Linked DNA regions of Homo sapiens: region 2 is linked to region 1. A link means that fine-mapping ties the variant in region 1 to the plasma level of a protein whose gene starts in the linked region. Region 1 holds a variant in brackets. A gene starts in the other region. All regions are shown on their forward strands. Region 1 has its middle 6.3 kb from the start of F12. Region 2 holds the start of PDGFC (platelet derived growth factor C).

Evidence for each region. A credible set is the group of variants that fine-mapping cannot tell apart. PIP is the posterior inclusion probability: the model's chance that the variant is causal. Protein levels are from antibody-based Olink assays in UK Biobank. Linkage for the fine-mapping came from a reference panel and not from the study's own genotypes, which makes the PIPs less certain.
Region 2: it holds the start of PDGFC, and the variant in region 1 is the best candidate, but not a certain one, in a credible set for the plasma level of the PDGFC protein (UK Biobank, PIP 0.58).

The regions. Positions count from the first base shown.
Region 1 is chr5:177,410,502-177,421,178 of GRCh38, forward strand. No RefSeq gene overlaps it. Among named protein-coding and RNA genes, the nearest start is that of F12, 6.3 kb to the left of the region's middle. The variant G/GC (reference allele first, on the strand shown) is at 2,582.
Region 2 is chr4:156,967,730-156,978,406 of GRCh38, forward strand. PDGFC (platelet derived growth factor C) reads right to left here and starts at 4,070. Exons shown (of 6, transcript NM_016205.3): 1 at 3,057-4,070. The coding sequence starts at 3,174. RefSeq lists an enhancer at 3,857-4,357.

The DNA.
Region 1 (10,677 bases):
TGTTAGCCAGGATGGTCTCGATCTCCTGACCTCGTGATCTGCCCGCCTTGGCCTCCCAAAGTGCTGGGATTACAGGTATGAGCCACCATGCCTGGCCCTGCCATTCTCCTTATTTTAAGGTCAAACAATTTGGGACTTAAATTACATGTGCAAAATTCTTTCACAGAAGCATCTACATTCATGTTTGACAGAATAACTGGGAGGTGTGCAAACACCAGGGGTAGAGATCTTGGGGCCATCTTAGCATTCTACCAACCACAGGAAGTGAGGCAAGAAAGCAAATGATTTAATGAGAAAAGTGCTAAACCAAGGGGCACTAAGATGTGCAGCTGGAACATGAGAAGAAGACGGGGTGCACATGTGCTGCCCAGCATCTGTCCTGGTTCGGTAATGACACTTTGATTTTTCCTTTAGCAACGACTCCTCTCTTACTTCTTCCATGGGCTCTAGTGCTGCCAACTCTACCCTCAGAGCTAGGGCTAGAGATGTGGCCTAGGTCTGGTCAATCAGAGCATGACATCTCTAATCCACAGTGATTGGTTCAGAGATAAGCATATACACAATTTAGGCCAATTAAAGTGCTAGCTTGGGACTTTTGCCAGAACTTTTGGGAAAGCAAAAAAGTTGCACTGGGGTTACTAAGCACAGAGCATGTGGGTCTGAACACATTGATGATCACCTTTGTCACTCTCTAGGGAGGGCCTGTTTGAGAATGAAGCCTACACATAGGAAAAGCAAAGCAAACAGGGCAGGAAGGATGGAAAGATGCTGTGGTAGACAGCCTCAAAGACAGCCCCCATTGATCCTCACCACCTAGGATTCATGCCCTTGTATGGTGTCTTCCCACATTGAGTTAGGGCTGTTCTGTGTGTCCATCAGAATATGACAGAAGTGGCTGGGTGTGGTGGCTCACACCTGTAATCCCAGCACTTTGGGATGCCAAGGCAGGCAGATCACTCTAGGTCAGGAGTTCAAGACCGGCCTGGCCAACGTGTTGGCCAAACCCCATCTCTATGAAAAATACAAAAATTAGCCGGGCGTAGTGGCGTGTGCCTGTAATCCCAGCTACCCGTGAGGCTGAGGCAGGAGAATCGCTTGAACCCAGGAAGTGGAGGTTGTAGTGAGCAGAGATTGTGCCATTGCACTCCAGCCTGGGCGACAGGGACTGTCTCAAAAAAAAAAAAAATATGGCAGAAGTGAGGGTGTTGGACTTCCAAGCCCAGGTCATAAAAGACATTGCAGTTTCTGCCTCGGTCTCTTAGGTTGCTCACTCTGGAGGAAGCCAGCCACTGTGTTGTGAGGACACACATGCAGCCCTGCAGAGAAGCCCATGTAGGGAGAAAGGAAAGCACCCTGCTGACAGCCAGTGCCAATTGGACAGCCACATGAATAAGCTGCCTTGGAAGTGGATACTGCAGCCCTCGCTGACATTTGGCTTGCAATCTTATGAAAGACCTCAAGGCAAAACTGACCATCAGAAACTGTGATAAATCATCATTAAATGTTGTTGCTTTAAGCCACAAGTTAGGGTGATTTGTTACACGACATTTGAGAACTAGTACTGATGGATTGATTTCTCATGACTTTGAGAGCCTACATCCTAAAACTAGAAGTATCCTTAAGACTTGGTCAGTTATGGCTAGGCACAGTGGCTCACGCCTGTAATCCCAACACTCTGGGAGGCTGGGGATCACTTGAGGATCACTTGAGCCCAGGAGTTCCAGACTGATGTAGGCAACATAGTGAGATCCCATCTCTCCAAAAAAATTTAACATTAGCCAGGCATGGTGGCGCGTGCCTGTAGTTCCGGCTACTTGTGAGTCTGAGGCAGGAGGATTGCTTGAGCCCAGAGGTCCAAAATGCTGTGAGCCGTGATTGTGCCACTGCACTCCAGTCTGGGAAGCAGACTGAGACTGTATCTCCAAAAAAAAAAAAAAATAGACTTCTCAGTTATATGAGCCAATAAAACCAATTTGAGTGGACTTCTGTCACTTTCAGTTATACAAAGTCCTAAGTTATACAAAGTAATTTATGGGAAATGAAGACTGAGTGTAGCAATTTATTAATTCTGCTGGAAGAGAGGCAGGCTGTGGAAGACTTCTTGGAACAGAAACACAGAAAGAGGAGGGCAGGAGAGGAGGGGCACCTTTCCAACCACTGGTTTCAAAGGTAACTGGTTTCAAAGTCATTGACGTGACAGCTGTTAACTCCATGATGAAAGTGAAACTATTAGATATATTGACGAGTCATTAAAGCGAAACTACCTTTGTCACCTTTTTTGTTGTTTCAAAGAGACTCGGTCTTATTAAGTTGCCCAGGCTAGCCTGGAACTTCTGGGCGCAAGTGATCCTCTCGCTTCATCCTCCTGAATAGCTGGGATTACAGGTTCATGCCATCATGCCTGGCTCTGTCAGTTCTTGATTGCTCCTGAGTATAGACCCTGGCCCTAAGGCCACTCCCACATTGGCTCCTTCCTCTTGGGGAGAAGGCAGCTGTTCCTCTACATGGAAGGGGCCTTTTGAACAGGTCTTCGCCACAAGTAGGGGTTTGCAGGCAGAGTGAGTAATACAACTGCACAGAA[G/GC]CCTGAATGCAGCGTGTCAAATGGGGAATGTGGTGAGCATAAGGTGCCTTGTAGGGAGTGTGAGATGAGGTGTCAGGTGGACATTAATGGTCATTTGGATGTTCAACATCCATCTCCCTTCCTCTTCCTCTCCCAGTTTCATTTTGTGATCACCCCTCCCCAGCTGTGGTGGTGAAAGGGTACTTTATTATTATTTTTATTTAGTTATTTATTTGAGATGGAGTCTCGCGCTGTCGCCCAAACTGGACTGCCATGGTGCGATCTCGGCTCACTACAACCTCCACCTCCCAGGTTCAAGTGATTCTCCTGCCTCAGCCTCCCAAGTAGCTGCCATTACAGGCCCACGCCACCATGCCCGGCTAATTTTTTGTCTCCTTAGTAGAGACCAGGGCTTCACCATGTTGGCCAGGTTGGTCTCGAACTCCTGACCTCATGATCTGCCCACCTCGGCCTCCCGAAGTGCTGGAATTACAGGCGTGAGCCACCACACCCGGCTGAAAGGGTACTTTCTAGAGACCATCTCCACTATGGAAGCCTAATGGACCAGACCAACCTCTCCCTACCATAGTATAGCCAGAGGGACCTAAACTCAGCCAATAGTGTTTTCTCCCAGGGCTCTGAATCCTGATCAAGCCACACAAGGATGGCAGGAAAAGCTGGAGGTCTGGCATTGCACCACCTGTGCCCTGACCAAATCATCCCGGCTACATGGCATTAAGTCAGGATGCCTTCCAAAAACCAAGCATATGCAGTAGGGCAATTCGAATTCATCATCCCATGTCACCAGATGTCTGGAGCAGCAGGACTCCAGGAACAGTGCTTTCAGTGGTTCAACAATGTCATCAAGAACCCAAGTTCTTTCTTTTTTTGTTTGTCTTCTGTGTGCAGACCTTCAGGCTGCCTGCCCTCATGGTCACAAGATGGCTGTCACAGCTCCAGGAATCACACTTCAACTCAATTATGTTCAAGCAAAGAAGAGGCACCTTCCCTTCCACTAGCTCCTTCTTAGGAATGAGGAACCCTCCCTCAAATCTCAAGCAGACCTCTCCTCATGCTTTCTTAGCTAGAACAGGCTCACATGACATCCCTAAGCCATGTTTGGCAAGGAAAAGGGGATCCCCATCACTGGCCTAAACCTATTAACCCTGGATCTGGGTCAGAGGCATGTGAGGTAAAGTGGCCACTGGAACAGAACTGGGACTCTGCAAACAGGGAAGAGCGGTGGCATGGATATTAGGTGGACAACTTCCGTGTCTGCTCAAGGGAAATCACTGTACTTCCTGCTTCCTAGTCTTCCAGTGGCTCTTAATTCCTGCACATTTCCAAGCCTATTCCTTCGAGCTGATGCCGTGAACTCCCGAAGACCTTCTCACAAAGTAAATTCCCTTTTGTTGAAGCAGCTAGAGTCATTTTCTGTTGCTTGCAACCAAGAGCTCTCTCTTCCTCATGCTCCCAGCCTACTTAGCCACCTAGTTCTGTTCATTCCACTATTTAAATATTTTTCTTTTTTTTCTTTTTTGAGGCAGGGTGTCAGTCTGTTGCTCAGGCTAGAGTGCAGTGACGTGATCATGGCTCACTGCAGCCTTAGCATCCCAGGCTCTAAGCAATCCTCCCACCTCAGCCTCCTAAGTAGCTGGGATACAGACGTGCAGCACCACACCCAGCTAATTTTTTAATTTTTTGTAGAGGTGAGGTGTCACTGTGTTCCCCAGGTTGGTCTCAAACTCCTGGGCTCAAGCTATCTCCTCAACCTCAGCTTCCCAAAGTGCTGAGATTACAGGTATGAGCCACCGCACCAGGCTACATAAATATTTCTCAAATCTCTCCATCTCTCTCAATTTCTACTGCCCCTTCTTTGACTTCCAGAAAATTCAAGGTAGCTACAGCTGTGAAACATAATTTGAGAGCCTGTGATGGATGTCTATCATTTCCTGTTTACCATTCATTCTCCCTGCTTCTAGAAATGGCCCTCATTGTTTCTTTGGGGAATCGCTCCTCCCCACCCTGCGTCAATATACATAAAATAAAGCCTACCCTATCCCTTGGCTGAGGGTGGAGTGGGCATTTGATCTAGACCTGGCCAATCGGAACACCACCTCTGTCTTCAGCGATTGGTTCAAATGAACACCTGAATTAGGTGGGCGTGGTGGTGCACGCCTGTGGTCCCAGCTACCTAGGAGGCTGAGGTGGGATGATGGCTTGAGCCTAGAAGGCAGAGGTTGCAGTGAGCCAAGATCGCACCACTGCACTCTAGCCTGGACGACAGAGCCAGACTCTATCTCAAAAGAAAAAAAAAAAGAACACCTAACCCACATCGAACCAGTGAGAGGCAGCCCCAGGATTTTTGCTGGAATTATAAAGCTAGAGGCCTTCTCTTTCCATGGAGGTTGTCACATTCCTAACAAATGAGCCTGGAGCTGCTGGCAGCCATCTTTAACATCTCAGAGGGAGAACCTACCTGAGAATAAAGATAATAAAGATTAAAAGCAGAGCCAGGGTATGGGCGCTGGGTGCAGTGGCTCACGCCTGTATTCCCAGCACTTTGGGAGGCTGAGGTGGATGGATCATCTGAGGTCAGGAGTTCGAAACCAGCCTGGCCAACATGGTGAAACTCTGCCTGTACTAAAAATACAAAAAAATTAGCCGGGTGTAGTGGCGCGCCTGTAACCCCAGCTACCTGGGAGGCTGAGGCAGGAGAATTGTTTGAACCTGGGAGGCAGAGGCTGCAGTGAGCTGAGATTGCATCACTGCACTCCAGACTGGCAAAAGAGTAAGACTCCGTCTCAAAAAAAAAAAAAAAAAAAGAGTGGAGCCAGGGTATGAAAAAGACAGATTTTAGGCCGGGCATCGTGGCTCACGTCTGTAATCCCAGCACTTTGGGAGGCCAAGGCGGGTGGATCACGAGGTCAAGAGATCGAGACCATCCTGGCCAACATGGTGAAACCCCGTCTCTACTAAAAAAAAAAAAAAAAAAAAAAATTAGCCTGGAGTGGTGGCACGCAACTGTAATCCCAGCTACTCAGGACGCTGAGGCAGGAGAATTGCTTGAACCAGGGAGGCAGAGGTTGCAGTGAGCCGAGATTGCGCCACTCCACTCCGGCCTGGTGACAGAGTGAGACTCCATCTCAAAAAAAAAAAAAGAAAAAGAAAAAGAAAAAGACAGATTTTGAATGACACCATTTGAGACCCAGCATCCAGAGACGCTTGAAGTCAGAACCACCACCTATGCTTTTCTGTTACCTGAACCCCAAAATTCCTTTTTTTGCCTGAGCTAATTTTAGTTTCAACCAAAAGTCCTAACTTATGCTGCCAGACTTCATACACTGTTACCAGGAAGTTCCCAAAACAAAACAAAACAAAACAAACCCCTTCATGTGATCATGATGGGTAAGTCAGTAGTTTAAAGGACGGGAAAATACTGACCTTAGAAGCAGGGTAGGGAAGCACTGGACTTGAGTCAGGAAGGCTTCCACTCCCACCTTGGCCACCGCCCCGCAGTGTGATGACGGCTAAGGAGCTCGGCCTCTCTCAATCTGCATTGCCACATCTCTGTAGGGAGGGATGGGCACTCATGCTGTCTGGTAGACTTGTTGAGGTGTTTGAATGGGATTGCATGTGAAAAGGCAGAGCCTGGCGTGTGGTTGGAGCTCAATCCATAGAGGTGTACAAAGAAACTTTCCAATGTGGATACATTTTTCTCTATAATTTCTGCACACTTGTCCCCAGATCTTCTTGCACATCTGGCTGTCTTCCACCAATTGCTGTAGACCAGAGCAGAAAGGCAGTGTCCCCTTGACCTGGCTTCTGTCTTTCTGCAGCTGGGCGGTGGGTCCATGGGATGAGAAACCATTGAGTCCTGCTCACAGGTTTCTGGATACACACAGACACACACAAATCCCCTTCCTCTTTATTTTTATTTTTTTGAGACAGAGTCTCGCTCTGTCTCCCAGGCTGGAGTGCAATGGCACGATCTCGGCTCACTGCAACCTTCGCCTCCCAGGTTCAAGCGATTCTCCCTCAGCCTCCTGAGTAGCTGGGATTACATGCACCTGCCACCACATCCAGCTAATTTTTGTATTTTTGGTAGAGACGGGGTTTCACCATGTTGGTCAGGATGGTCTCAAATTCCTGACCTTGTGATCTGCCCACCTCGGCCTCCTGAAGTGCTGGGATTACAGGTGTGAGCCACCATGCCCGGCCCCCACTTCCTCTTTAGCAGGGACTTGGGACATAGATTTCATGTGGTTGCAGAACTGCCTGTTCAAGGAGACGTTGGGGGGATCAGAAGGTACCCAGCCTGCCATCCTTCACACCTTGGCTGGTGGTACTGTTGCTTCCCCAGTCAGACTGTTGAACTGTTGAGATACAGTCTTTTTTTTTTTTTGAGATGGAGTCTCGCTCTTGTCGCCCAGGCTGGAGTGCAATGGCACGATCTTGGCTCACTTCAACTTCCGCCTCCCGGGTTCAAGCAATTCTCCTGCCTCAGCCTCCCAAGTAGCTGGGATTACAGGTGCCTGCCACCACACCCGCCTAATTTTTGTATTTTTAGTAGAAACGGTTTTCACCATGTTGGCCAGGCTGGTCTTGAACTCCTGACTTCAGGTGATCCACCCACCTCGCCCTCCCAAAATGCTGGGATTACAGGCATGAGCCACCGCACCCGGCCAAATTTAATTAATTTAAGTAGCCACATGTGACTAGGTGCTACCATGTTGGACAGTGCAGCTCCTGATGGAAGCAGGAAGAAGCTCAGCGTGTGGCTGCTGGTGCACACCGAATGAGAAGGAGAGGGCATGAAATAACGCTGGAGAGGGAAGCAGGGCCCGGATCAAGTTGGGCCATTGTGGGCCACGGGGAAGAACATAGGGTTTTTAACATTTTAATTGTTTATTTTTTGTAGAGCTAAGTCTCACTATGTTGTTGCCCAGGCTGGCCTTGAAATCCTAGGATCAAGTGAGCCTCCCACCTCATCCTCCCAAGTAGCTGGGACTACAGGAGGTTTTTTTAAATTATTATTTATTTATTTATTTATTTTTTTGGAGACAGTTCTTGCTCTGTTACCCAGGCTGGAGTGCAATGGTATGATCATGGCTCACTGCAGCCTCAAGGAGGTTTTATTTTTTAAGTGTAATGAGAAGTGTATTAATTATCTATGGCTGCATAACAAATTGTCCCAAAATTTAGCAGCTTAAAATGACATTTATGGAGACTGATTTCAATGATAACTCCAGTTCTCTCACGTGGGCCAGCCTCACATCAATTAAACTCTTTTTTTTTTTTTTTTTTTGAGACAGAGTCTCGCTCTGTTGCCTAGGCTGGAGTGTATAGTGACACGATTTTGGCTCACTGCAACCTCTGCCTCCTAGGTTCAAGGGATTCTCCTGCCTCAGCCTCCCAAGTAGTTGGGACTACAAGTGCCCACCACAACACCTGGCTAATTTTTATATTTTTAGTAGAGATGGGGTTTCACTATGTTGGCGAGGCTAGTCTCGAACTCCTGACCTCATGATTGGCCTGCCTTGGCCTTCCAAAGTGCTGGGATTACAGGCGTGAGCCACTGCTCCTGGCCAATTAAGCTTTTATTTTATTTTTTTGAGACAGAGTTTCTCTCTTGTTGCCCAGGCTGGAGTGCAATGGCACGATCTCGGCTCACCGCAACCTCTGCCTCCCGGGTTCAAGCAATTCTCCCGCCTCAGCCTCCTGAGTCGCTGGGATTACAGGCATGTGCCACCACGCCTGGCTAATTTTGTATTTTTAGTAGAGATGGGGTTTCTCTATATTGGTCAGGCTGGTCTTGAACTCCTGACCTCAGGTGATCCACCCACCTTGGCGTCCCAAAGTGCTGGGATTACAGGTGTGAGCCACCACTCCCGGCCATAAACTCTTTTTAAAAAAGATATTTATGGGTCACAGTTTCTATGGGTCAGGAACCCGGCACTTTTTAACTGAGTGCCACTGGATCAGCATCTCTCACAAGGCTGCATCGGAGGGTCAGCTGAGGCTGCCGGGGGAAGGATCCACTTCCAAGTTCACTTACAAAGCTGTTGGCTAGAGACATCAGTTGCCTGCCACATAGGGTCTCTCCATCTCACAACCTAACAGGTGGTTTCTCTCAGACTGAGCCAGTGAGGGAGCAAGAGGAGTTACGTAAGATGGTAGCCACAATCTTTTAGTAATCTCATGTTGGAAATGACATTCCATCACTTTGGCTGCATTCCTTCCATTGGAAGTGAGTCAAGCTGGGTGCCATGGCTCATGCCTGTAATCCCAAGACTTTAGGAGGCCAGGGAGGGAGGATTGCTTGAGCCAGGAGTTTGAGACCAGCCTGGGCAACAGAGGGAGACCCTATCTCTACAAAAAAATTAATTAGTTGGGTATGGTGGCATGCGCATGTAGTCCCAGCTACTCGGGAGGCTGATGTAGGCTGATCGATTGGGCCCAGGAGGTGGAGGCTGCAGTAAGCTGTGATCGAGCCTGAGTGACAGAGCAAGACCCTGTCTCTTAGGGAAAAAAAACGTGGCCCGGCCCAGTGGCTCACGCCTGAAATCCCAGCACTTTGGGAAGCCGAAGCAGGCAGATCACCCAAGGTCAGGAGTTTGAAACCAGCCTGGCTAACATGGTGAAACCTCATCTATACTAAAAATACAAAAATTAACCAGGCGTAGTGGGCAGCGCCTGTAATCCCAGCTACTCCGGAGGCTGAGGCAGGAGAATTGCTTAAACCCGGGAGGCGGAGTTTGCAGTGAGCCGAGATTGCACCACTGCACTCCAGCCTGGGCGACAGAGCGAGACTCTGAAAAAAAGAAAAGGCCGGGGGCAGGCCAGGCCTGGTGGCTCACGCCTGTAATCCCAGCACTTTGGGAGGCAGAGATGGGCAGATCACTTGAGGTCAGGAGTTCAAAACCAGCCTGGCCAACATGGTGAAACCCCATCTCTACAAAAATTAACTGGGCGTAGTGGCACGCGCCTGTAGTCCCAGCTACTCGGGAGGCTGAGGCAGGAGAATTGCTTGAACCTGGGAGGCAGAGGTTGCAGTGAGTGGAGATCAAGCCACCGTACTCCAGCCTGGCAACAGAGCGAGACTTCCACAGAGCGAGACTCCATCTCAAAAACAAAAAAAAAGAAAAAAAGAAAAAGAAAAAATGCCGGGTGTAGTGGCTCACACCTGTAATCCCAGCACTTTGGGAGACCGAGACGGGCGGATCAGGAGTTTGAGACCAGCCTGGCCACATGGTGAAACCCCGTCTCTACTAAAAATACAAAAAATTAGCCAGGCGTGGTGGTGAGTGCCTTTAATTCCAGCTACCCGGGAGGCTGAGGCAGGAGAATTGCATGAACCCAGGAGGTGGAGGTTGCAGTGAGCTGAGATCATGCCATTGCACCCCAGCCTGGGTAAGGAGAGCAAAACTCCATCTCAAAAAAAAAAAAAGTGAGTCAGGAGGTCCACCTGACACTTAAGGGGATCTTAAGGCTGTGAATACCAGGAAGAAGCAGAGATCCACGGACCAGGAAGAAGCAGAGATCCACGGACCAGGAAGAAGCAGAGATCCACGGACCAGGAAGAAGCAGAGATCCACGGACCAGGAAGAAGCAGAGATCCACGGACCAGGAAGAAGCAGAGATCCGTGGTGGCAGGGGTACCTTAGAGGTTGCCTACCACAGGCAGCCACTGGAGAGTTCTGAGTAAGAGTGACAGGATCCGGCTGATTGTTTTTAAGACAGGCCATCCAGTCACACAATGCAAGATTAAAGGTGCAAAAAGGGAGGTGAAAAACCTCCCTCCCACCCCCATCCCCAGCCATTTAACTACCCCTTCCCAGATGCAAGCAGCATTTCTGCTGCCTCACGTGGCCTTCCCAAGGTGGCAACATATATATAAGCAAAACTGTCTGTGGTGGTTGTTAGTGTTGTTCACCAAACATTTCCAATTCTTTTATCCTTCCAGGCCTATAGGAGTGATGCCAGGTACCTGCTTCTGCATTATAAACTACTCCAAACTTAGTGGCCTGTTTTATCATGCTCATGGATTCTGTGGGTCAGGAATTCAGGCAGGACTCAGCAGGGAAGATGCCAGGGACCTCAGCTGGATACTTGCA
Region 2 (10,677 bases), not on the chromosome of region 1:
CAATAGGCATTCTCATCTAAAACCAGTGTGCACAAAATATGAGTATTTTTCACCATGGTCATACAACAAGTATACAGGCCAGACACCCTCCAAGCAAGTCAATGTTATCTTTTAATCTCTTTCCTCAAGTTAAATCTGAAGACTCTTGTTTTCATAAGTGAGACAGGGTCAGAAGTAAGGTTAAAAATTAAGTATAGTATATGAAGTCAACTTATAATATTAGAGGATAAAACTTTGTACAGTAAAAGTGGCAAGAATTGCAATCCAATGGTAGGTCAAAAACCAGATACCTAACAATAGTGTAAATGACACTAACCCTTCAAAGCTAATTCTGAACCATGTCCACATGATCCAGTCTAAATCCATGTATGCAGCATTGGCTACAGCAATCAATTTCCAATTCTACCTCCTCTTGAAATACCAAGTTAATATTAAAACTGAGCAGCCCGAGGTACCTGATTGAGTAATCACCATTAGGGACTTTAGAATACTCAAGAAAAGAGAGTATCATGAGGAGGGGTCCTTGGAGACAAGAATGAGCTGCTACAGTCATAATATATCAATTTGGACATTTCAGAGTTAGAGAAGACCTGTCACAAAACGATGCAATGCACAAACTGGGCCAATGGGATCTTCTACGTGGTATCCTCAAGGAGGGTTCGTATTTACAGGACTGTACAACTGTCAAAATTGAGACAGCAACAGGGCAATCAAAATTCAATCATAATTCAGTATGTGGGCAAAAGATTACCCACATAATGGAAAATTTGAAAGACAAAAAGAAGAAGAAGTAGAAGTAGTAGTAGTAACGGTAATGGTAGTAGCTCTAACAAATCTGGTTACATTCCAGGGGAATCTTCTTCAGCACCCACCTGTTACCCTCAAATCTTGAAACATTTACGTATAAAAATCAACCTGAGCATGTGCAAGAAAATAGCTCTATATTGCCCCCTAGTGCTGGCCAGTGCCACTTCTCCTTGGGCTAAAAACTACAAGTAGTTCCTCTACTTCTAGTTACTTCCTGCTGCCATCCTTAACATAGACCAACCCCCAAACATAGCCTAATCCTCTACCCACAGATTAGGAAACAAGCAGCAATTTTTAGCATCATGCATCTTAGGAATGGAAATGGCCCAGCCTCAGATGGCAACAGAATGTGTGTGGCCTGGCTTAATGAACTCATCTCTCCTGGAGGTGTGAATCTACTTGGGTAAAGTGGCCTATGACCACATGCTGCATGACAGCTCTGGGACCCTTACAAAGTGATGATAGCATGGGGATCACAAGAGAGAACTAAAAGGAAAGGACAAAGAGAAGCACAGGTCAGCAAAGAGATTCGGGCAGATGCCAAGAGAGGCTTGATAAGACAAGGCAATAGGAGAAATGATATGGGACAGGAACAATAAAAAACAGAAGCCAGGAAGCCAGGAATATTGTGCATTGTTGTCATTATGGAGGAGCTTGGCTAGTAAGAAGCAATATTTTGAACTGGACATTTATTTTACATGAGAAAGAACAAAGGTTGGTCTGATGTGTTTCCTGCACGGGTACAGCTGGTGCTGTGGCTCCTTTGATCACTTTCCCCCAGACCTCTGCAGCTACTGTGATTAGAGATACATCCCTAGGCTGCCCTTTGATCAGCAGCTCAAGGAGCCTGCAGGTGCCATGTGGCATCACATTAGCAAGTTGTAAGAAGCACCACACTAATATTAGCTGATAAATGTGATACTATGTCTTGCTGCGCAACAGCAAATACAAATAACGTTTGCAAAAGTCGGCAGAATCCTTATTTTATCTACTTTTATACCCTAAAACTTTCTGTGCTTTCTTAAACATGAACACTTCATAGAGTTTAAATTCAAAGTTGAAGTCTTGAAACACCCCAATATGAAAAGGAAAAAAAATCACTCTGACTTAAAACTATAGCACATCCTATCTTAATTTTGTAGGTATGCCACTTGTGTTCATTTTGCATGGTTAATCAAGTGACAGAATCCTTGCATTCTGAATAGATGATATACAAAGCAGTAAAAACATGTATATTCCTTTTCAAATTACAGTAAGAGCCACCATTTGTAAACAGGGCGTTAAATATTCCAATTTTAGACAGCCTAACATGAACATTGTGGTTTCATGTGCAGTATAAAATTTCTATTTACAAAGTATTCTCAAAAATGACTTCATAATGGTAGATGAAGAGAAAAAGAGTTTAGAAATTGAATGATGTAAATCATATGGGTTCAGAGGCTAAGCAAATTACACACCCTGAAGCTGCCCTGGCTTTATGAAAGGAGCCTTTCTCCAGCTCTGTGCAATCCCAGCCCAAGGGAACTTGCATCTGAGAGTTTTCTAAACATTTCAGGTACACTTGAAAGCTGAAAGTAATTCTCATTTCCTATGCAGGATTAAGTCGTTTCCAGCACACACAAAATAGCAGTCATTCACCAACACATACAAAAACACACCACCAGAAAGGTAAGGACTTCAGAGTACAAAGGCAAGTTTAAAAAACAAAAACTAGGGAGCAAGAGAAATACACTTTTTAATTCCTCTAAAAACGACCACACAGCCTCTTGACCTCTATATTTCCTATCTACTCATTGATTAATTGATGACTTCGACCTAGAGTGCTTCAATTAATGCGGCTGATATATTTCCTGACCGACCCCCCTCGCCCTCCCCAAATCTGAGTAAAGTCAAACATGCCAAGGCTCATTCATTTTGGATTCGTTTTTAGAGGCAGTTCTTGAACTTCTAACTTTAGCAATGAGCGAACCTGCAATGTGCATTTGAAATGACGTTCACAATCGCTCCCAGAATGTCCTCACTCAGCAGTGGCACTCACGTTGCCCTCTTGGAGCTTTGTGGCAGCTCCCGAAGTTGCAAACTACACTTAACCTTTAACAGTCCATGCCAATGAACGCAGCGCACATTTGCATGTAATGAGAGACCAAAGATACCTTCACAGTCTGGTATATATCACATACCAACGCACAATGCCAACGTTAACACACACAGCGAGAAACAAGCAGGGGGAGAATGGGGGAAAGACTCACCGTTCTGTTCCTTGTTGCTGGAAAACTGGAATTTACTACTCAGGTTGGATTCCGCCTGAGTCCCCTGTCTCTGGCCGGCCAGGGCAGATGTCAGCAGGAGAAGCCCGAAGAGGCTCATTTGGCTGACTGGGGTGAGAGCTCACTCACGGCGGGCACTTTGGAAGCAGCGACTCCCGAGTCTCTTTCACCACCGCCAGGGGAAGGCTGCACTGGGGTGGAAGCGCCGAGCCTGCTCTGGCAGCAGAGAATCGCAGGGTAGTTTCCACATAATCCCATCCAAAACTTTTTCCTAGAGCCCTCTTCTGTGTCTCCAGTTTTTGAAAAGGATCAAAGCAAAACCTGGACCTGAACCAGTTTCCCAAGGTTTAAACAAATCCTGAGCTGTGGCGAAGTGGTGGGGGTGGGGGTGAAGGCGAGGGAGGAATGAGGGGGTGGGGACGCGGGGGAGCGGCGAGAAGTCCCCAGCAAGTTGCTGGGAGCACCTGTCAGTTCGGGGGACAGGACAGAGGCGAAAACTCAAGGGTTGCCCGCAGCCAGACTGGAAGCCAAGTCGGCGGCGAGCAGTTTCTGATCAATAACAAAGCTGCCAATAGATGCGGCTCTCCGGGCGCCCCTCTCCCCCGCCCCACCCCCCACCCCCGAAGGGGGAGGGGGAAGAAACAAGGCGAGGGCGCCGCGGCGGGTCCCACGGGCCGGGGCGCCGGAGCGGGGCCGGGGGGCTCCGGGCCGACGGCGGCCCGGGCGCAGGCGGAGAGAGGCCGCGGGGCTCCCGCTCCTCAGCCCGGAGCGCAGTTGGCCCCGGGTTCGGAGCGCCGCAGCACGGATTCCGGCACCTGGCTTGAGTTTTCCGCGACCAAAGTTCACCTTGTTCGGGCTCGTCCCCCGCTCCTCAAAGCCTGGGGCAATTCGGCCGCTCGGGGTCACCGCGGGGCTCCGGTTGTTCCCCGTCCCCTCCCCCCACGCCTCGGGCTCCGCGCTAACCTCGGGGCTACGCGCGGCGTCTCCGCACGGGGTGAAGAGGGAAGGCCGGGGCGGCCGGGAGGATCCGGCTTGTCCCCTCCCCTTCTCTACCTTCCCCCCGCCGGGCGGCAGACAGGAGGTGGGGGCCGTGGGCCGAGCCCGGGCGGAGCGCGCGCCTGGCGAGCGGGGGCGGCTCAGCGGCTCTCCCGCAGGCGGCCGATGGGGCGGGCGGGGGTCAGCGCCTCTGGGAGGGGCAGCCCTGGGACGCGTCCGCGCGAGCGGGCTTGGCCGCCCACTGGCTGTCAACAGGTGCTGCGCAGACAGGGGGTGCTGCGGGACTCGCTGTGGGCAAGACCCCGGTGGCCCAGGAGAGGAACGCGGCCAAGGCGGCCCCTGCTTTCCCTTCCACGGAACACCTCTAACCCCAAATACAGAGCACGATGGGTGGTGAAGGGTGCTGCAGAAGTAAGTGGGAAAGAACTTCCTGCAGCTCTCCTTCTCCCGCCCCCTGTCGCCTGACTTGTCATTAGTTTCCAGGAGGGCTCCCCACTCCCTAAGGTCTTTGCTAGGACCCTTGGCCAGAGTTTCAGAACAGAAGGAAGAAGGGAAATGAATTCAAAGGCTTTCCTCCAATTTCCAGCTCCGTAAAGCAGGACAAATAAAGCAAAAGTAAAGGCAGCCAAAATAACATCCATTTAACAAGTACTATATTTACTGAATGCCTACTATGTCGGGCACTGTTTAGAGGTTGGAGCCGTAGCAGTGAAAACAGACAAAAGTCCCTGCCCTCGTGAAGCATACGTAGTAGTTGGGCAGCATTAAGCTAATAGCAAGCTCTTCTGAGAATGGTGTCTAAGGGACTCAGAATGATCCTGCAACCTTGGACTTTCCTACAATACAGCCTCTAACAAAACTAGGCTGCCCTGAACCCCTGGTGATAGAATTGTTTACATTTACACCAAAAAGGTCGAGAAAGAACTGAAATCTCTTGTGGCTTGTGTTCAGGCTGACTTGGAGAGAGAGGCCGATGCTTTAAGACCTAAAGTTCTCATGAGGTAGTCTGAAATGAAACACACATGCCAAGCAGGGCTTATGGTGGTTCCATGTCTGCTAAATATGTCTGTGACAGGATCCAACGTGCTTTCTTTGTGGAGAAGCAGAAAATCATTGTCAATGTGTTAAAGGCACAAGCAGAGAGTCAGAAAAGTTGAATTTTAAAATGAAGCTATTTTTGAGTAATAATCAAAATGAAAACAAGGAAGTGCCATGGCAGGCAAATCAGCAATATCACCCAACTTCTTGTGGAAAAAAAGTCAATGCAAACAATTCGACCATCAAGAACACTTGGGCTGGAACAGAAAACCAAAATAGCAATGTCCCTGAAACTAAGGAGTGGCATTTGGGCAAGAACATATTCTTACTGGACCAAACCAGGGGCTGATCCTTCTTCAGTGGTGAGGAAAATGCCAAGCCCTCTTCTTATATGCGAACACCAACTGGGGCCAACCAACCAGACCTTTCTGCTTGGAATATCCTAGTCTTCTTGTTTTTCCCTTTTAGAAACCTTTGAAAACTTCACCCATCTGTCTCATTCTTGAAAATTTCACCCGCCTGTCTCATTCATTCATTCTTATCCCTTTACCACTTCTATCTACAGAGTACTAAATATACACTAAAGGCAAATAAGGCCTGATCTTTGACTTTAAGGCATTTACAGTTTAGTGGACAGAAGGTTTTTTATCAAGTATGGTATTTTATTCGAGTTAGCAGCTCCACAACACCAGTGTGACTCCATATTTGCATAATGTGTTCCAAAAATATTTTGTAAATTTGTGAGGGTGAAGGGTTATTCCCAATTTTAATAACATAATGGGACTTAAATAAAGGGCATGCCTTATGAATCCATTGTAATCTATTTTTCATAAAATTCATTATTCTCCAGTTTTTCTAATTTTGTAAGTTTAGTTTTCTAATCAGCACTTTTCTAAATGAAATTGTTATATGTCCATATAGTTGAGTTTCCTGACCACCCACATAGAGGTGGGGTGTGTGTGTGTGTGTGTGTGTGTGTGTGTGTGTGTGTGTCTGCAAATGTAATCCATTTGCTCTCAGGAGATTGGAAGGGTGATGACTACTCTTTATTTTGTATCATTTCATATTGGCTAGAATATTGCTTGGCACAGGGGGATAATAAATAAACACTCTTGACTGACTGACAGGTTTCTTTATTGGAGTCACTTACATTCTCCCTGGAATTTCAGTGCGATAGTTGTATTTGAAAAGTTACAGATGATCTAGAATAATACTCTACCTCTGCGTTTCACCTCATCCATATTCTACAGATTGATTTGACAATCGCCTTATAAATAAAGTCAGCCAGGTGTTCCTGAATGACCCCTAGACAAAATCACATCCACATTGGCCAATTTCCTTTCAATGTACTTGCATTGTCATTTCTTGAACTGCTCTTGCCCTTGACGTAGTTGATTCTTTTAACACATTATCCTCTGCCTGTCTTCCTGCTCTATTTTGCTTGTTAACCTTTTCTAGAAAAATGAAATCTTTGCATTGAAAGTAAATTTTATATAATCCAGAGTCTGTGCAATTACTAAACAATATATTTTAAATGAATATGGCTTTGTTTTGGCCAAAGGCATTTTCCTTGATGAAAGGCATCTGTTCCGCCAACCAAGAGAAAATAATTTCAGACATTCTTTGTGGTTTTCATGTTTTCTTAAACCTTAAGAAGGAGTGCCCATTGCTGCTGCATGCATGAAGAGTATTACCACAAATTCTTACTAAAGAATACACTTGGTGGTTAACAATGATAATTTGGGGGAGGGGGTGTCACTACTAAATGTTTTTAAGTGAAATAAGATTTTAAAGCAACCTACTCCTTTAGCTAGCCACTTAACACTCAAAGGGGCGGGAACCATGGGGACATATTTTTGCCACCAAAAAAAAAAATCTACGTTTTCTTGCTCTTTATTTTTCTGTTTTGATCCTAACACACACACACACGTGCATGCACACACACACAGAGGCATATGTGCAAAGTTATTTTAAGACTTTTCCTGGAACATTTCAGTATTTTAGTGGCAGATAATTGAGCATGATTTCCTGAAGTTCAGAAAGCTTTCTTCTACCTAAATACTCATTGTGTATTGAGAATGGCTGACAAGTAACAAATATATATATATATATATATATATATATATATATATATATATATATATATATATATGGCAGGACTGGAGATATCATTAGTAGTCAAAGTAAACGTCCACAGACCACAGCAGGAATAAAGACTGTGTTAGGAAAAAAAGAAATAAATAAATAAATGAAGTCAGTAGTCTGTCTTAGAGTCATCCTCTTCTCTTTCCACTTTTCCCACTACCTCATCTTGAGAAATACGACCTTGCTATCTCTAGGTTATGAAGATATATATCAATACTCTGTTTTTCCAACCAAGAAATGAGACACTTTTCATTACATTTTATTCTTCTAGCATCAGGTAACTTTTACCTCCCCAGTGTATCAGCTGCTAATCTGAGAAGGGTTTACCTGCTGAGGCTGAGGGTAGAGGGTTTTGCTAAGGCTCTGCTCTAGAAGAAGACACACTTTGTCAGTCTGACTTTCCTGGGGAATGGATCTGGAGGATGGGGAGTTAAGAGAAGTGTGACCTGCAGAAATGGACTTTAGTTGGCTCTCTGTGGCCTTTTCCTTTGAAGTAAAGCTGCTATTTCCTTATTGAAATCTAAGATTTTCCAAAATCTTAGAAGTGTTTGTCTGACTCTGAACTCAGAGGGAGTAACTAGCCAGAAACAGCCGTAAAGAAAGAGAAGCCCTAGTAACCTTTGAACCACCACAACAAAAGATCATTTCACTGGGAGATGGGAGGTCAGGGGCTTAGTCTGGCTTTACCACTAATAAACAGTACAACCTTGATCTAGAAATCTTCTCTGCCCCTCAGTTTCCTTTTCCTTACATGAGGAATCGCCACTGGCTTCTGTCTTGATCCCCCTACTGCTTTAGAAATTCTCTGAGCTATTATAGATAATGATGGCAAGACTTTTTCATCTTCAGTGTGCTTCTGTGATAAAAAATTACTAGCACAAGTTTCCTAGCCTCATATCAGAGATGTCTTCGTGGCTGGCAAAAGAGATAATGAACAGGTTCTTCTTTCTAAACTTGCTCAACTAGAGCAGTACTATTGTATCTGTTATTGCCATAGTTTGAAAAACCAAGCTCTAATGGTAATCAAAAAGAAGAGGGGACAGAGTTTGGAAATCACTGGCTAGGGCAAGTATACAGGAATATCATGGAATTCAAGGAAACCAAATAAATCCCCAGGCCTTCAATAGGTGCAGGTATTCATATTTTACTTTTCAATATTTGGTTGTTATCATGCTAACAGCCTCGAAAGAGGCAAAGTGCAGTCCTAAGCGGAGTGTCAAGGTAAAAAGAAATAGCTATTGTACATAACTGAGTTGTAAACACTAAGGAAATAATATTGTTGTTAGCCAAGAACAGATGGTCAAACTCATACTGTTCTATTGAGTCACACTGGTGGAATGTGAAACAATCTGGAGAGCAAGGGGTATCCCCTAAGAACATGGACAGCAACACTATCTTTGTCCATATCTTAGAGTCAATAAGGTGTCATTTTTCTCTCTCTTGAAATCATTTGTAGGATATGAAGGCTGTTGTCCCCATTGTGACAAATCATAGTAAAGAGGTCAAGACACAGCTACAGACCCTCCTTTCTCAGATAGTGACCTTCTTATTTCAAAGGTCATGGGAGAAGGAGCCTTTCACTTTGTGATCATTGTTTCAAATGCAGTCCTTTCCTTGGCTACTAGCCTTTGTAAAAGAGGTGGATAGTCTCAGCCCACTACTTAACAGTGAACATCAAAAAGTATTGCTGGCTGGCTAGAAGAAAGGAAAATATGGCTTAACTAATCTAATATTAAAAGTATCCTCAACTGCTTTTGAAGTTCAAGATAGATCAACAGACCCCCCTTTCTATTATGATTATTACTATTTGCTTTCCTTATCATCTTTGCAGTAATAAATCTGCTTGTTTTCTTTTAAAGCAGACTTGCAACACTCTTAAGGGATCATTTTCTTTTCCCAAATTTTGTTTTTATCAGCACAATTTCCCTTTGTGTTTCCCTCATCCTCTGTACCACCTTCTCTTCTTTCTCATCATCTAAATCTTCTTTGAATTGTCCTACAAGAAATTAGGAGGACAAAAAGCCATGTTTTCCTCTTGCAGGCTACTCAAAAAGATTTATAGTTATACCAAGGCAAACCAAGGAAAATTAAAGTGAGGGGAGAATTACTTTTGCTTAAATTTATCTTTAAAAGCACCTACTATGTCCCAGGAACTGTAGATTCATTAAAATATATTAATATTTTCTCATTTAATCTTCCAGCTTCTCCTTTAAGGAAGGTCATAGGTTTCCCATTTTACGGCAGAGAAACTGAACCTTAAAGATGGCATTAATTTTCCCAGAGTGACAATATTAATGACAGGTAGAGTTAATATTTAACTCCAGGTCTTCTCCTTTTACTCCTTTTCAATTTGACACCTTTAAGCCCTGGACTTTGGACAAAAACATCTTACCTGAAGCTTTCTTACATTTCTCTTCTAAGTTTTCTTCACAATGACTGAATGTCTTCCCCTATGTTTAACCTGAGGTGTTCAAGAATACTACTACAACATTACACAGCTATCTGACTGGACAGCCTAAATAAAATGTTTGAGTCAAAATGAATATGGGTTACCCGAGGCAGTGATAGTGACTAAGGCCTCGGGCAGCTAGCCTTGGGGTTGAAGCCCACCCAAGGCGTGGGCTAGCGGGAGTATCCTGTTTATCCTGGCCAACGTTAGTCATCCGGCCAATGTCTAAGCCTAGACCATCTGTGGGCAGTTATTTCAAAGAATCTATCTCCTTGTCTTTGAGGACAAAGGGAGTGAATTATCATTCCTCTTTTTCTACTCATGATTGCTACTGAATTGAAGCATCATGGCTAGGAAGAAATATGCTGTTTTCCCAGTTACTCCCTTTGAAGAATCAATTTGTGATTAGCTATAGATGTCAGAATCTAGACCTTTCTTATATATGTAATTCCTATAGACATCCTTCCACATGTTTCTAATTTAAAATACTTAGTCCAAGAGTTTTTTAAGTGGCATGGTGAGGCAAATTTGCATCCCTATTGATAATTTTACAAAGGTATTTTAGATTAGTTGGAGTTATTCAAAGCACAAAGACTGCTGCATGAAGGGACTAGTGACTTGTTAAGCCCTCAGGCAAGCAAAAGTCTTCAATTGAAATTCTAATTCCATAGATACATTCCATTTGTATTTGAAGGGGTATACCATATGAAAAGACCCTATGGTGCCATTTTTGTCCCACTGGACAGCAAGTGGAAAAAATTCTTTACATTTATTTCCTTCATAAATGGCTTTTAAAACACACGTAAAACTAAATAGAAAAATGTGGACACAGCTAATTGCCATAGCTCCTATTATTTATTTTTATTGAGGTAAATTATTATGTACTATGCGTCAGTAAAAACAGTACTTTAGGAAGTCAATGCACTTCGTAATATTCTTTCTTTCTGTCTATCTGGATTTCCATCAGAAGATTAT